2 separate regions of the Homo sapiens genome follow, and region 2 is linked to region 1. A link means that fine-mapping ties the variant in region 1 to the expression of a gene that starts in the linked region. Tissue or cell type: thyroid. Region 1 holds a variant in brackets; the other region holds the start of a gene. All regions are shown on one strand. Distances are from middle to middle.

Region 1 (7,820 bases):
AAAGTGATATTTCACTCTGTATGCAAGAAAGACACTTTTCTCCTCTGTATAAGTACAGTACTGTAGTAGACAAAAACAAAGTGATAGTACACTTAGAAAACCCTAGAGAATCAATGATAAAAAATAGTAAGATAATTCAAGCAACATAAAAAATATAAAATTCACACACAGAAACCTATAACCTTCCTATTTACAAACAATAGCCAGCTAAAAATATAATGGTGGGAAAATTCTATTTACAGTAACAGAAAAGACCAAACACTTAGGAATAAACCCAAGCAATGTGTAAAGCCTATATGGAGAAGACATGAAAACACTCCTGGGAAGATAGACTATCAGACTTAAACAAACAGAAAGACATCCCTTGCATTTGAGTAGAATGACTCAATAACCATTTTCCCTGAGTTAATTTATATGTTTAATGTAATCTCAATAAAAATGTCAACCTTTCTTATGAAGCTAGACAAACTGACACTAAAGTTCATACAGAACAATAAACCTTCATGAACAGATCAGAAAACACTGAAAAGGCAAAGTAACACCCTATTGGACAATAAAACACGCTCCAATTACAACAGTTTGGTGCTGAGGAAAGAAGAGACACAACAGGAGATTGACCAGAAAATAGAAATAGATTGAACTGCATTTGGAAATGTACTACATGATAAAGGCATCTCTAATCACTGAGAAAAACTTATTTGAAATAAATGATGCTACAAACGTTGGGGCACAAACGTTGGGGCATTTTATCTTTGAACCAAGATAAAATCCACACCTCATACTCCAAATGGATCAGAAATCTGAATGTAAAAAGCAAAACCATACAAGTAGTACAAGAAAACATGGCGAATTATCATATGATCTATATGTAGAAAAGGCTTAGAACTACAATTCCAATTAATAAAAGACTGACAATTTTTTTAAAAAAAAACCTGTTTCATAGGAAAAAAATCATAATAAAGGACAACCAATGAGGAAATACTTGTAACATATATGAAAAATGAAAAGCTAACATCCCTAATATATAAAGAACTCTTTAAAACCAAGGGGAAAAAGGGACCAAAAACCTGATTTAGAAAATGGACAAAAGACATGAACAGACAAGTTCACAGAAAGAAAAATTTTTTAAATATAAATGGTCCTATAAAAAGTTCAATTTCACTCAAAGAAAATAACTGGAAATTAAAACTTAAGATATCCTTTCTCACCTATCAGATTGGGAAAAATTAAAAGTGTAACACCACACTCTTGACAAGCCTCTGGGCAACAACTGCTCGTGACAATTCAAATTGATCTAAACCTTACAAAAGGGAGTTGGGCATTATTCAAACAAACAAACAAAACAAACTTACATATGTGTTTACCTTTTGATCTAGCAATTCCTCTTGTATAAGCACAGGATTATTTAGTGCAGCACTGTGGCTAAAAGAAGCTATAAAAAATCTAAATCCTCATATGTGGATAAACTGTGGTACAGGTTGAATATCTCTTACCCAAAATTCTTGGGACCAGAAGTGCTTCAGATTTTGCCTTTTTCAGATTTTGGAATAATTGCATATACCTAATGAGACATCTTGGGGATGGGCCCCAAGTCTAAACACAAAATGTATATATTTTTAACATACACCTTACACACATAGCCTGAAGGTAATTTTAATATAATACGTTTATCAATTTTGTGCAGGAAACAAAGTGTTAATTGTGTTTTGACTGTGACCCATCACATGAAGTCAGGTGTGGAATTTTCCACATCTGGCATCATGTCAGTGCACAAAAAGTTTTGGATTTTAGAGCATTTTAGATTTCAGGTTTTGGGTCAACATAGCAGAGCACTCTAGCAATAAAAATTGCTAAAGGAGGAATAGCTCTCTGTTAATTAATACTGCAGTGGCTGTCAGGATATATGAAGTTTTTTTAAAAAAAGGAACAGAAGATAATATAGTATACAACCTTTTGTGTAAGAGAATAAGGGAATATAAAATTATACATGTGCCTGCTTATTTCTACAAAAGAAACATATAGTTCAGCTGTGTCCCCACCCAAATCTCATCTTGAATTGTAACTCCCACAATTCCCACGTGACATGGGAGGAACCCAGTGGGAGGTGATTAATTATGAAGATGCGTCTTTCCTACACTGTTCTCATGAGTGAATGAGTTTCATGAGATCTCATGGTTTTAAAAATGGGAGTTTTCCTGCATAAGCTCTCTTTGCCTGCTGCCGTCCATGTAAGATGTGACTTGCTCCTCCTTGCCTTCTGACATGACTGTGAGGCCTCCACAGCCACACAGAACTGTAAGTTGATTAAACCTCTTTCTTTTGTAAATTGCCCAGTCTTGGGTAATGTCTTTATCAGCAGCATAAAAATGCACTAATAAAGGCAACTGGTACCAGTGGGGAGGTGCGCTCCTGAAAAGATATCCCAAAATGTGGAAGCAACTTTGGAACTGGGTAACAGGTAGAGATGGGAACAGTTTGGAGGGCTCAGAAGACGAGAGGAAAATGTGGGAAGGTTTGCAACTTCCTAGAGACTTCTTGAATAGCTTTGACAAAAATGTTGATAGTGATATGAACAGTAAGGTCCAAACTGAGGTGGTCTCAGA[C/T]GGAGATGAGGAACTTGTTGGGAATTGGAGCAAAGGTGACTCTTGTTATGTTTTAGCAAAGAGACAGGCGGCATTTTGCCCCTGCCCTAGAGATCTGTGGAACTTTGAACTTGAGAGAGATGATTTAGGGTATCTGGCGGAAGAAATTTCTAAGCAGCAAAGCATTCAACAGGTGACATGGGTGTTGTTAAAGGCATTCAGTTTTATAAGGGAAGCAGTGCATAAAAGTTTGGACAATTTGCAGCCTTACAATGTGATAGGAAAGAAAACCCCATTTTCTCAAGAGAAATTCAAGCTGGCTGCAGAAATTTGCATTACGTAACGAGGAGCCAAATGTTAATCCCCAAGACAATGAGGAAAATGTCTGCAGGGCATATCAGAGACCTTCATGGCAACCCCTCCCATCACAGGCCCAGAGGCCCAGGGGGAAAAAGTGGTTTCACGGGCCTGGCCCATGGTCCCCATGCTGTGTGCAGCCTGGGGACTTGGTGTACTGTGTCCCAGCCACTCCAGCTGTGGCTGAAAGGGGCCAACAAAGAGCTCAGGCTGTGGCTTCAGATGGTGCAAGCCCCAAGCCTTGGGAGCTTCCACACAGTGTTGAGCCTGAGGGTGCACAGAAGTCAATAACTGAGGTTTGGGAACTTCTGCCTAGATTTCAAAAGATGTATGGAAACTCCTAGATGCCCAGGCAGAAGTTTGCTGCAGGGGCAGGGTTCTCATGGAGAATCTCTCCTAGGGCAGTGCAGAAGGAAAATGTTGGGTTGGAGTCCCCACACAGAGTCCCTACTGGGGCACCACCTAGTGGAGCTATGAGAAGAGGGCCACGGTCCTCCAGACCCCAGAACAGTAGATCCACTGACAGCTTGCACCATGCACCTGGAAAGGCTGCAGACACTCAATGCCACCCATGAAAGCAGCCAGGAGGGGGGCTATACCCTGCAAAGCCAAAGGGGCAGAGCTGCCCAAGACCATAGGAACCCACCTCTTGCATCAGCGTGACCTGGATGCGAGACAAGGAGTCAAAGGAGATCATTTTGGAGCTTTAAGATTTGACTGCCCTGCTGGACTTCAGACTTGTGTGGGGCCTATAGCCCCTTTGTTTTGGTCAATTTCTCCCATTTGGAATGGCTGTACTTACCCAATGCCTGTAACCCTATTGTATCTAGGAAGTAACTAACTTGCTTTTGATTTTACAGGCTCATAGGCAGAAGAGACTTGCCTGGTCTTGGATGAGACTCTGGACTGTGGACTTTTGAGTTAATGCTGAAATGAGTTGAGACTTTAGGGGACTGTTGGGAAGGCATGATTGGTTTTAAAATGTGAAGATATGAGATATGGGAGGGGCCAGAGGTGGAAAGATATGGTTTGGCTATGTCCCAGCCAAATCTCATCTTGAATTGTAACTCCCACAATTCCCACATGTCATGGGAGGAATCTGGTGGGAGGTGACTGAATTATGGGGTTGGGTCTTTCCTGTGCTGTTCTTGTACTAGTGAATGAGTCTTATATGAGATCTGATGGTTTTAAAAATGGGAATTTCTCTGCACAAGCTCTTTGCCTGCTGCTATCCATGAAAGATGTTACTTGCTCCTCCTTGCATGATTGTAAAGCCTCCCCAGTCATGTGGAATTGTAAGTCAATTAAACCTCTTTCTTTTGTAAATTGCCCAGTCTCTGGTATGTCTTTATCAGCAGTGTGAAAACAGACTAACACAGAAACACATGAAGGAAATGCCAGAAACTCATGAGACTGGTAAGGTAAGGAAGGGGTGGGGACAGGGTGGGGGATGACACTACTCTGGTATTCCTTTTTGCATATTTTGTCTTTTGTTACTATGTTAATGTGTTACTACTCAGAAGATAACATAGAGTCAACAAGGATGGGAGGAAACCCTAAAGTGGAATACAAACAAATAAATTAACCTAACTGTATTTTAAACTGATAGCACACACTGAAAATATGATGAAGGGTGAGAAAAAAGAACTAAGTTATTTTTGACTCAAGTAGTGTTTTGACCAAAAACTTAGACTAAAGACAAAAAGAAATAAAAACAAATATTGAACTTTAGTTAGTATAAATAAAAACAAATATTGAATTCTAGTTAGTATAACTGTTTCTTGCCATAGTTCAGGTCAGAAATTGTAAAAAGCTACCATGTATCCTAGGATTGACAAGTAACTCAGTACGTTGTGAATGAAGGTCTTGAAGAAGGAAGCTACAAACATGGAAAGGGCCCTAGGGTGCTGAAATGAAATTGGAGACAACAGTATTCCCTCATCTTATTTTGCTTTTTGGAGCTTATTAGAGTGTAACTGATATGCAATAACTGCTAAAGTACAGTATTTGGTAAGTTGTGACATTATGTACATACCATGAAACTATCACTACAATCAAGACAATGAACATAGCCGTCACCTGCAAAACTCATGTCCCTTTGTAATCCCACCGTCAAATACCCCATGCCCAGACAACCAATCCAATTTCTGTCATGACTGTGTGTTTTCTAGAATTTTATGCAAACGGCATCAGAGTATGTACTAATCTTACTAGTCCGAAAGTCATCCATGCTGTAGCATGTATCAATACTCTACTTCCTTTTATTGTTGATTAGTATATATATTTTTTGAGACGGAGTCTTGCTCTGTCGCACAGGCAGGAGTACAATGGTGTGATCTCGGCTCACTGCAACCTCCACTTCCCAGGTTCAAGCGATTCTCCCGCTCAGCTTCCCAAGTAGCTGGGATTCCAGACACCCACCATCATGCCTAATTTTTGTATTTTTGTAGAGATGGAGTTTCACCATGTTGTCCAGGTTGGTCTCGAACTCCTGACCTCAGGTGATTCACCCACCTCGGCCTCCCAAAGTGCTGGGATTACAGGCGTGAGCCAAGCCCCACCTGTCGACTAGTATTTGATCATATGGATATGCCATGGTTAGTTTAACTATTTACTTGTTGGTAGACATTTGATTTCTACATTTTTGGCTATTACTAATAAAGCTGCTACGAATATTCATGTACAAGCCTTCGTATGGACATATTTTTCCATTTCTCTTGGGCAAATACACACCCAGGACTGAAAAAGCTATATCACAAGGAAAGCGCATGCAACTGCCAAACTGTTTTCCAAAGTGATTGTGCCATTTTACATTCCCACCAGGCGTGTATGAGACCCAACTGCTTCACATCTTTACCAACACTTAGTATGGTCAGTCTTCTTTCATTTTAGCCATTCTAGAGGGTGTATAGTGGTATCTCGTTATGGTTCTAATTGGCATTTCCCTAATAACTAATAATATTAACAAGTTTCATATATTTATTTGCCATCTACATATCTTTCTTGGTGAAGTCTGTTCAAATTATTTGTCCATTTAAAAAATTGGGTTATACATTTTATTATTTTTTGACATGGGGTCTCGCTCTGCTGCCCAGGCTGGAGTGCAGTGGCATGATCACAGCTCACCACAGCCTCAACCTCCCAGGCTCGAGCAATCCTCCCAGCTCAGCCTCGCAAGTAGCTGGGACCACAGGTGTATGCTACCACACCCGGCTATTTTTTTTTTTATTTTTTGTAGAGATAGGATCTCACTATGTTGCCCAGGCTGGTTTTGAACTCCTAGGCTCAAGCAATCAACCCACCTCAGCCTCTCAAAGCACTGGGATTACAGGCTGAGCCACCACACCCAGCCAGTAATTTTTTATTGGGTTCCAGACATTGTGAATTTCATCTTGTTGGATGTTGGGTATTTGTATATTCCTGTAAACACTCAGGTAGGGCTGAAGCAGTGCTCACTCTAAGGCTGATCATTCCCTACTACAGAGGCAAGACCCCCTACTCTGTATCATACCCAATGCCCCATGAAATATTTTTCCAGTCTTAGCTGGTGGGAACAGGCACTATCCCTGGCCATGGGTGAGCACCAGACATGTTTCCTCTAATTCGAAAAGTTAAAGAGGAAAGGCCTTTTCACTGACCTTAAGTAGTTTTCTTGCACAATGTGCTGGTCAGTATTCAGCTGAGTGCCAGTGGAGACTCTGCAGACCTGTGGGGTTCTCTCCCTGTGCAGAGCTGTCTCCGCTATCGTCTCTTGCATGTGAATGCCAGCCACCCTGGCCTCCCCTGATGCTCAGCTCTGCCTTTTCAACAGAGGGTCTGCCTGGACTCCCATCTGGGTTCTCCCTCTTTCTGTTACAGCACGAAAATTCTCTCAAGGCAGTAGGGCAGGGCAACTGGAGAGCTCAGTTCATTTGTTTCCCATCTCTCAAGAGATCACTGCCCTTTGGTGTCTGAAAACCATTGCTTCATATGTTTTGTCATTGTTTTCATTGTTTCACATGGAAGGGTAAATGTTAATCTGCCTTTGCTGGAAGCCAAATTCATGGTTTTCACAGACATAGAGACAGGTGTATCTGTGCAATTTGTTGTGCATATATATGCACGTATGTATGTGTATATGTATGTACACAACAAACACATACACACACATACATACATCTATTTCCTGATACTATTGGCTACGAAAGCAATGACATAATAGCAGCAATGAACACTCTGAGAACCCGGATCCTAGTTCCTAAATACCATTCTCCAGGGTTCCTTGAAGAAATGGCTGATTCCAGGGCTGGCACAGAATACAAATTGAGCTCAGCATATATTAGTATGCCAAGAAGAAAGGAGGTGCTCAAAGAATGGTGGGGACATACCAGAGGGACAAAGGAGCCAGCTTGAAGGAGCTCCCACCCATGAGGCAAATCTAAGACAATACGAGCATCATAATACCCCTACTAATGGATTACAGTCATGGAAAAAAAAAGAATCCATTAGTCCACACTGATCTAAAAATAAATTAATAAATAAATAAGAGAGAAGGAAAACCTTCCTTACAATAGAATGTTAATCACCATTTGGCAACCATTGTAGTAATAACTGACTGAGGAAAGAATCATCAATAGATATTAAAACTAGTGGATAAAAGTTTGATGAGAAACAGGATATTTACACAGTCTCAAAGCATATTCCTTGAAAGCACAAATTAATTACAAAGGTAAAAATATTAACCTTAGCATTGAGAAACCTGGCAGACTCCACCTTAACCAAGTGATCTTAAAAATCAACTTGTAATAGGTCAAACCAGCATGTGTCTCCTGATAGATGCACTGAGTAAGATACGGTATCACCTCTGTGGCATTCCTACCAAAAAAAAAATGTATGCATAGA
Region 2 (8,050 bases), 73 kb after region 1:
AAAGCACCGGGATACAAAGAATTCAGCATCATCTACACCCGAGTGGCTATCCACTGGAGCAGCAGCATGTCAGTTAACAACAGAGCAGGGCAGGTCAGCTAGCCCGGGACACGGACAAGAGGTCACACGAGCATCGAGCGAACTATATATGGTGTCTGGGGCCCAAGAAATATCACGGAGGAACTGAGATTTGAACACATGGGCCATGCATGGTCTGATATATAGGAGGTGCTCAATATCTGCTGAAAGGAAGTGAGGTTCAGAGCTAAGTCTAAAATAATAAAAAGTTTGGTCTGGACAAATGAGTCACCAGTGAATTCAGTCACAAAAATGAGACTCTCAAAAAGGAAGCAGATAGGAAGCAGGACTGGCAAGCAGCTTACATGTAATCAGTACCATTTGCAGCATGCAGTCAGAAATGCAAATCTGAGCTCAAGGGAAAGTCTGGGTGACATGTGGACACATCAGCAGAGTGAGCAGTTCCAGGGTTCCCAAGGCTCTGACAGGTACCTAAGGTCATTTTGGAGGGTACGAGGAGGCTAACATTGGAAAGGTTAAAAAGTGAACAACACAGTGAGAAAGTTCCTTCTTTTGGGGCCTGCTGATTATTTTCAAGAGGAAGGCTCAGCTCACCTCACTTTCCAACAGAGAGAGCAGGATTCCAGCTCAGAGTGTCTGTACTAGCTGGCAGTTAACAATTCTGTTTTCATTTTTCTTATTTGTACACACATGAGGATTTCTTTTTAAGAAAAAAGGATGCCAATTCAACCAAAAATATTAAGTAACCATTTTTCTATTTCTGTAAAATAATATCAAAAAGCAATAGTATTGTAGTGTAAAGACAAGGTTAAAAATAAAGAAGTTTGGGGAAAACTTCTAATAATAAAAAAGGAGGAAGAGCGTCCAGTGAATGAGAAAAGGCTGAGTGAATTTGGATACCAATGGGTCACCATTTACCTTGGTAAAAGAAGTTTCAGGCCAGGCTTGGTGGCTCACACCTGTAATCCCAGCACTTTGGGAGGCCAAGGCGGGTGGATCACCTGAGTTCGTGACCAGCCTGACCCAACATGGTGAAACCCCATCTCTACTAAAATACAAAAATTAGCCAGGCGTGGTGGTGCATGCCTGTAATCCCAGCTACTCGGGAGGCTGAGGCACGAGAATCGCTTGAACCCAGGAGGCAGAGGTTGCAGTGAGCTGAGATCACACCGCAGAACTCCAGCCTGGGCAACAAGAGTGAAACTCTGTCTCGAAAAAATAAAAAAGTTTCAGTGGAGCGATAGGGCCAAAAACCAGACTGTAGTGGTTGAAATGTAGTTGGTGTGTAAGGAGTGGATGAGGAAATGGAGGCCACAAGAGAGTGGCCTGTCCTTTAAAGAGCTTGCCTCTGGCAGGGAGACAGCTACAGTGATAAAGTAATAATGGATTTGTTGGGGGTAGGGAGAGAACTAGGGCAAGAAAAACTAGAGCACGTAATGGCTGGAGGGAGACAGAGGAGATAACCCAGAAAGGTGTACCAAAAGAGACAGCAAAAGTGGAAGGTCGCAAGCAGAAATGAACAGGAGGCACAACACATCTTTCTCGGACTCTGGCAGAAGGAGGATTCCTGATAGATCTAAATTTGCAGGTGGAAAGGAGGGAAGCTGAAGTGGATTACAGACAAAATATCCCACAAAGCAGCAAGTTGGGCAGTTCCTGAGTCAGGAGACAAAGTTGGCACTGGGGCTAAAGACTAAGAGTCTGGAATAAATGTCCTGTACAAGAGAAAAGGGAGTTGACAGGGAACAAACACTGATGATTGCTGTGGAGGACCTACCTGAGGATCTCCCCAGCCCTGCAAAGCCATAGACTGCTAACAATCTCCAGGGCTGAACAATCTCCTCCTTCAGTAGTCCTGGGGGAAATGTCACTATTGAGGGTTTTCAGAGCAGAAATGGTAGCGCAAAAGAGTCACGGGGTTGAAGATGCTGAGAAGAGTAGCTGAAGCAACTGACTTCAGGGTCCAAGCTGGGTAGGTTTAAAAAAACAAAAACAAACAAACAAAAAAACAGAAGGGGCCTGGAAATGGGAGAAAGGGTTCAAGAAGTCACTTAGTATCTGGCAATGGCCAGAAAACCAAGTCTTCTGGAAGTGAGAGTTGGAAACCAGAAGGCTCTTATCAGGTTAAAGAATTTCAGAAGTGAAATAAATCATACATTTGCCGGGAGCGGTGGCTCATGCCTGTAATCCCAGCACTTTGGGAGGCCGAGGCGGGAGGATCACGAGGTCAGAAGTTCGAGACCAGCCTGACCAACATAGTGAAACCCCGTCTCTACTAAAAATGCAAAAATTAGCTGGGCATGGAGGCGCGCGCCTGTAATCCCAGCTACTCGAGAGGCTGGGGCAGGAGAATCGCTTGAACCCAGGAGGCGGAGGCCGCAGTGAGCGAGATCGCACCACTGCACTCCAGCCTGGGCGACAGGGCAAGACTCCGTCTCAAAAAAAAAAAAAAAAAGAAAGAAAGAAATCATACATTTAACAAATAGTTACTGAGAGTTAATTACACCAGGCAATGTACTAGGTTAACTAATTCCTGTCCCCAAAGAGCTTAGAGTCTCATGGGAAAAACAGACATTTAAAAACTATATATATATATATACACATACACACACACACACACACACACACACAAATATAATTGTGGTGACTGCTGTTAAGAGGAAAGTACAAGGCTTTCTGACAAAATGAGAGAAACCAAATTGAAATTGTGGAGGTAGATGTGGGGTCAAGGAGGCCTCTCTGATAAAGTGACATCTGATAAGTCAGTCAGGTCGAAAGTAAAGTGAACGTCTTGCAAGGAAACAACGTGTGAAATTTTTTTTTTTTTTGAGACGGAATTTCGCTCCGGTTGCCCAGGCTGGAGTGCAACCTCCGCCAGGCTCCGCCAGGCTCACTGCAACCTCCGCCTTCCGGGTTCAAGCGATTCTCCTGCCTTGGCCTCCCGATTAGCTGGGATTACAGGCATATGCCATCATGCCCGGCTAATTTTTCGTATTTAGTAAAGACAGGGTTTCACCACGTTGGTAAGGCTGGTCTCGAACTCCTGACCTCGGGTGATCCACCCACCTCGGCCTCCCAACAACGTGCGTAACTTTTAAGACTAGAAAGAGCTGATGCACTTGTGAAAATGCAAGAAGGCTGGAACACCGAATTTTTGACTTTATTTTTAACTTTGAGTTAAGAAGAGCAGAGAAGGGCTCCGTTCATGGCCTAAGTCTTGCAGAGTATCTTCTAAGGCTTAATCATCTGGGACACTAGTATCTTCACCGTCCTCCCCCATCACTGGGGCTCCCGCAGCCAGGGGCAAGCTGGGTCTCATTTGGAGGGTTGGTCGGACACAGGCACAGTTCTGAGAGGGGACAGGCAAGGGCCAAATCACACAAGGCCTGGGAAAACACGAGCATGGATTCCACTCCCAGTGCAATGGAATGACTCTGAAAACTGTTAAGTAGGCTGATGATGGCATGACCTACTTTATGCCAGAGACCACCTGGACAACTGTGCGGATAATGGATTGGAGGAGACAAAGCAACAAGAAGATGATGGGAAAAGTTGAGGAGAAAAGCGAGGGCTGCCTGTCACAGGATGACAGCAGTTAAGACGCTGCGTGGAAGTCACGTAACAGCAGCATTTACAGGCGGCCTGCCTCATCCGCCCACACTCTTATCAATTTGACTCTATCAACGCCCAAAACGTCGGACGTACATCTAGCCCGACTCTCTTTAAAATAACAGCTCCAGCATTTTAATCGAGATCAAAAAGGACCCAGCTGACCCTGCGCGCAGGGGGCCTTATACAAAGTCGGAGAAGTAGCTGGGTCGCTGGCCGGCCAGGGACTCAAGCCGCCTCAGGTGAGCGCTCCTTGGCGCTACTTCCGGTCTCAGGTGAGGCCGCCGGAAGCGGGCACTTGGCCCTAAGACCCGCTACAGTGCGTCCTCGCTGACAGGCTCAATCACCACGGCGAGGCCAAGGCGCGGGGCCGCGGCCCGCCCGAGAAGCCTGAGCTGGGCCCCGACACCCCCTGCCCGACATTCGGCCGGGACCCCCGAACACTCACCCAGGGCCGCGCGAGCGCCCACAAGGAAACAGAGACGCTACCGCCGCCAGCCGCCTTGGAACCCAGCTCGACGGGCCGTGGCGCCTGCGCCCTCAGCTCAACCATAGACACCGCCCCCAACAGCGACTCCGACTTCTGCTGGTGCGGGGAGGCCCGTGGCGCATGCGCCTGGCTCAGCGTTTGTTTTTAAGCACGGGCAAGACCACGTGGTTTGGAGGGACGGGCTCAGCAGCGCCTTTCTACTTGCGTGCGAGCAGGGCGAGAAAGCTGTCTCCGCTGCCGGTCAGCTGGGTGGCTTGCGAAGGACGCTTCGCCCCTAGCGAAAAATACCCTGCTGGCAAGGCAGTTATGAAAGTTAAGACATATTTCCACGTAGAGGGGGATGCGGGTGTGCCATGCGAATGTAAATCCTCACAATTAACCTTGAACCCTGCAGAGAAAGTCAGCTTGGGCAGGGAAGTTAGCCGCACTTTTTGGTCGCCAGGCTGTGACCTCTCTTGTTGTCTCCCACGACTGAACACGGGAAGGATGGAGAGCTGTCCTGCTTCTCTGTTCCCCCTCCGCCACGCGCGCACCTGGGCGGAGTGAGTGCCTACAGAGCCTGCTTACATGTGTACATTGCCTTAAGTCCAGCGTTTAGTATCCGTCCTCAGATCTCAGAGGTAGGCGGGGTTTCGAGGCAGGCGAGAATTTTACCGTGGTGCGTTTGAAGAAAGAAGATGTCCACACAGAGGTTCAGAACAATGGGAGGAAGTTGAGCTTCGCCTGGGGAAAGAAGCAGCCCACGATGCAGGATGGCTGTACCAGACAGAGCTTCTCAGCTCAGGATCGGTGCTAGGAGAAGGTGGACTTTCCAGGGCCGCGAGGCAGGACGTCCTCTGGGAGGGCAGTGACTGCGGGTCACTGCCTGGGAAGTGCTGTCCTCACTTGGAAGCCTGAAGTCGGACAATAGGGAAATGGGGTCGGAAAGGGGACTAGGAAATGCTCCATAACATCATCTTATTCCTCCTGTCAGCGGCCCCAACCCACAATGTAACTTGTTTTTGTTGGTGGTAGTGGGTTTTTTTGTTTGTTTTGTTTTTGTTTTTGTTTTTGAGACGGAGTTTTGCTCTTGTCGCCCAGGATGGAGTACAATGGCACGATGTGGGCTCACTGCAACCTCCTCCTCCCAGGTTCAAGCGATTCTCCTGCCTCAGCCTGCCGGGTAGCTGGGATTACAGGCGCCTGCCACCATGCCCAGCTAATTTTTGTGTTTTTAGTAGAGACGGGGTTTCGTCATGTTAGCCAAGCTGTCCGCGAACTCCTGACCTCAGGTGATCCACCCGCCTCGGCCTCCTAGAGTTCTGGGATTACAGGTGTGAGCCACCACGCCCGGCTTGTAACTTGCTTTTTTTTTTTTTTAAAGGAGAAAGAATTCTAGCGATTTCTTGGATAAAATATTAAGAATAGAAAGGCAGTTGATTGACATTAGTTTCAATGCTTGAAAGTAAAAGCAGATATATAGTGGATCCCAACTTTTGAGACTGAGGTTCCCTTTGCAGCTATTTTGGAGACCCTTCCTATATCAGAATTTGGACAGGAAAAAATGGTCCACTCAAAAGGGGAAGTTGAGAGTTATTATTTACAAAGACGTGGGCGGGGTTCAGGAAAACAACTCAGGGTGGCACAACTGGAGCTATTAAGGGCCGAATTGTGTCCCCTCCCCAAAATTCATATGCTGGAGTCCTAACCGCCACTCCCCACCCCCACCCCGGGACCTCAGAATGTGACTGTATTTGAAGATAGGGTCTTTAATGAGGGAATTTAGTTAAATGAGGTCCCAAGTTATTTAGCAAGTCGTCCAAGCCCTTTTATACTCCTGCCCCATCTAATTTTTCTGCATCACTTGTGTCCTTCACTCCCTGGATGCCTATGCTCAGGATTTAGGGAACTACTTACTCTTCTCCCAGGAAGGGTGTGCTACAATTGGCTTCTACGGCCTAGCAAGCATACTGTTCACCTCTTCCCAGCTGCCTTAGCTCAGGCTGCCATAACAAATGCCATAGACTGGGCAGCTTAAACAACAGGCATTTGTTTCTCATAGTTCTGGAGGCTGGGAAGTCCAAGATCAAATGCAGGCAGATTTAGCTCATTTAGGGGAAGCTCTCCTCATGGCTTGCAAATGGTTACCTTCTCACTGTGTCCTTACATGGGGTAGAGAGAGGGCTCTGTCTTCCCTTTCTTCTAAGGCATCAGCCGTATTGGATTAGGGACTCACCCTTATGATCTCATTTAACCAGATTTGCTGCCTAAAGACCCTGTCTCCAAATAGTCACATTGAGGGTTAGGGATTCAGCATATGAATTTGGGGGGCACCCAGTTTAGCCCATAGCACCAACTCTGCCTTTGTTGACTTCACATTAATAGCTTGAAATCAGCCATAGTAGGAGTATTTATACCACAGAAATGGACAAACTATAAACTGGAACTTTGGGGGAGAGGCAATTATTAATCTTTTCCCACATACCCCTACTTGTTATTCTGTCACTTCTGTGATCTTACAAGCAGGTCCCTCTGCTTAGAATTCTCTTACCCATTCCAAACTCAGACAAAGTTTCTCTTTTCTGAAGCTTTCCCCTACCCTCTGACAGCAATAGGCTCTTGCATCTCCTGTGTACCCCCAAACCAATATTTCTAATGTCATTATTATAGTAGTTATTGATTTGGATTTTAATCCATTTTCCCTACCATTTCCTAGCCCTTACTCTAAGCTGGGCATTATTTTAAACACCCCACCCAAGGGGTTCTTCCTGCCCACTGCATAAAGAAAGACCATAGCATTGTGGTAGAAAAAGAGCTTAATAGACACGAGGCCGACCATGCCAGGTGGGAGATGGAGTGCATGCTCAGGTCATCTGATCCAAAGTCCGAAGCTCATAGGCTGGGGGTTTTTCAAACGCAGTTTGGAGGAAGGGGTGGGAGTGGCCAGGTAACAGGTGCTTGCTGCTGATTGGTTGAGGCTGAGATGAAATCATAGGGGGAGTCAAAGCTGTCCTCCTGCAGTCTGAATCACTTCTGGGTGGGGCTGTGGGAGTGGGGTTGGCGGTCCAGGTGGAGCCATGGGTGTCAGACATGCAAAAAACCTGGAAAGATATCTCAAAAAGCTACAAATAGTGGTTGTATTAGTCTGCTCTCGTGCTGCTAATAAAGACATACCCAAGACTGGGTAATTTATAAAGGAAAGAGGTTTAATTGACTCACAGTTAAGCATGGCTGGGGAGGCCTCTGGAAACTTACAATCATGGTGACAGGGGGAGCAAACATGTCCTACTTCACATGGTGGCAGCAAGGAGAAGTGCAGAGTGAAGGAGGGGGAAAGCCCCTTATAAAACCATCAGATCTCGTGAGAACTCACTATCAGAACAGCATGGAGGTAACCACCCTCACGATTCAGTTATCTCCCACCGGCTTCCTCCCACAACATGTAGGGATTATGGAAACTACAATTCAGGATGAGATTTGGGTGGGGACACAGCCAAACCATATCAGTGGTGTTATTTGCAGGAGTAATTGGGAAAGTTGAGTATCTTATAACCTCCAGAATAATGACTGACAATCGTTCATATCTGCGCCTTAGCAGGACTCAGGCTCCTCTCCTCCCCCACAGCCTGATAGCTTCCCATTAGCTTTACAAAAACAGTTGAGTTTCAGGCAAGGTCTGTTATCATGTAAACTATAGCCTAAATGTCTCTCAAAGTTAGCTGGCCCCAGTAGCTTAGAAATAATTAAGGGAAAGGCAAGATAGGTGTTGGAATGGGGGCGTTAACTCAGACCTCTTTCACTGTCATAATTTTCTAACTGATATAATTTTTGCAAAGGTGGTTTCATTGTCTTGAGTGCTTTACTAATGTTAACTTGTTTAACTATGACGATATTCATCCTTGCGCCTTTATTTCACATTTCGTGTTCAATATA

Alleles and levels. Positions count from the first base shown, and alleles are read on the strand shown. Sizes are in standard deviations (SD) of each study's normalised expression.
For the expression in thyroid of the gene that starts at base 4,256 in region 2, allele T in region 1 goes with a higher level than allele C (small effect, 0.28 SD a copy in GTEx).

The links. PIP is the estimated chance that this variant, and not a neighbour inherited with it, causes the effect.
Region 2: it holds the start of ERCC6, and the variant in region 1 is fine-mapped to the expression of ERCC6 in thyroid (GTEx, PIP above 0.99).

Annotation. Positions count from the first base shown.
Region 1 is chr10:49,461,577-49,469,396 of GRCh38, forward strand. All of the region lies in intron 18 of ERCC6 (ERCC excision repair 6, chromatin remodeling factor), which reads right to left. Among named protein-coding and RNA genes, the nearest start is that of PGBD3, 59 kb to the right of the region's middle. The variant C/T (reference allele first, on the strand shown) is at 2,604.
Region 2 is chr10:49,534,866-49,542,915 of GRCh38, forward strand. It overlaps ERCC6 (ERCC excision repair 6, chromatin remodeling factor), which reads right to left and starts at 4,256. Exons shown (of 21, transcript NM_000124.4): 1 at 4,097-4,256. RefSeq lists enhancers at 1-68, 1,227-1,276, 1,307-1,366, 4,609-4,668, 4,699-4,938 and silencers at 2,765-2,953, 3,899-4,188.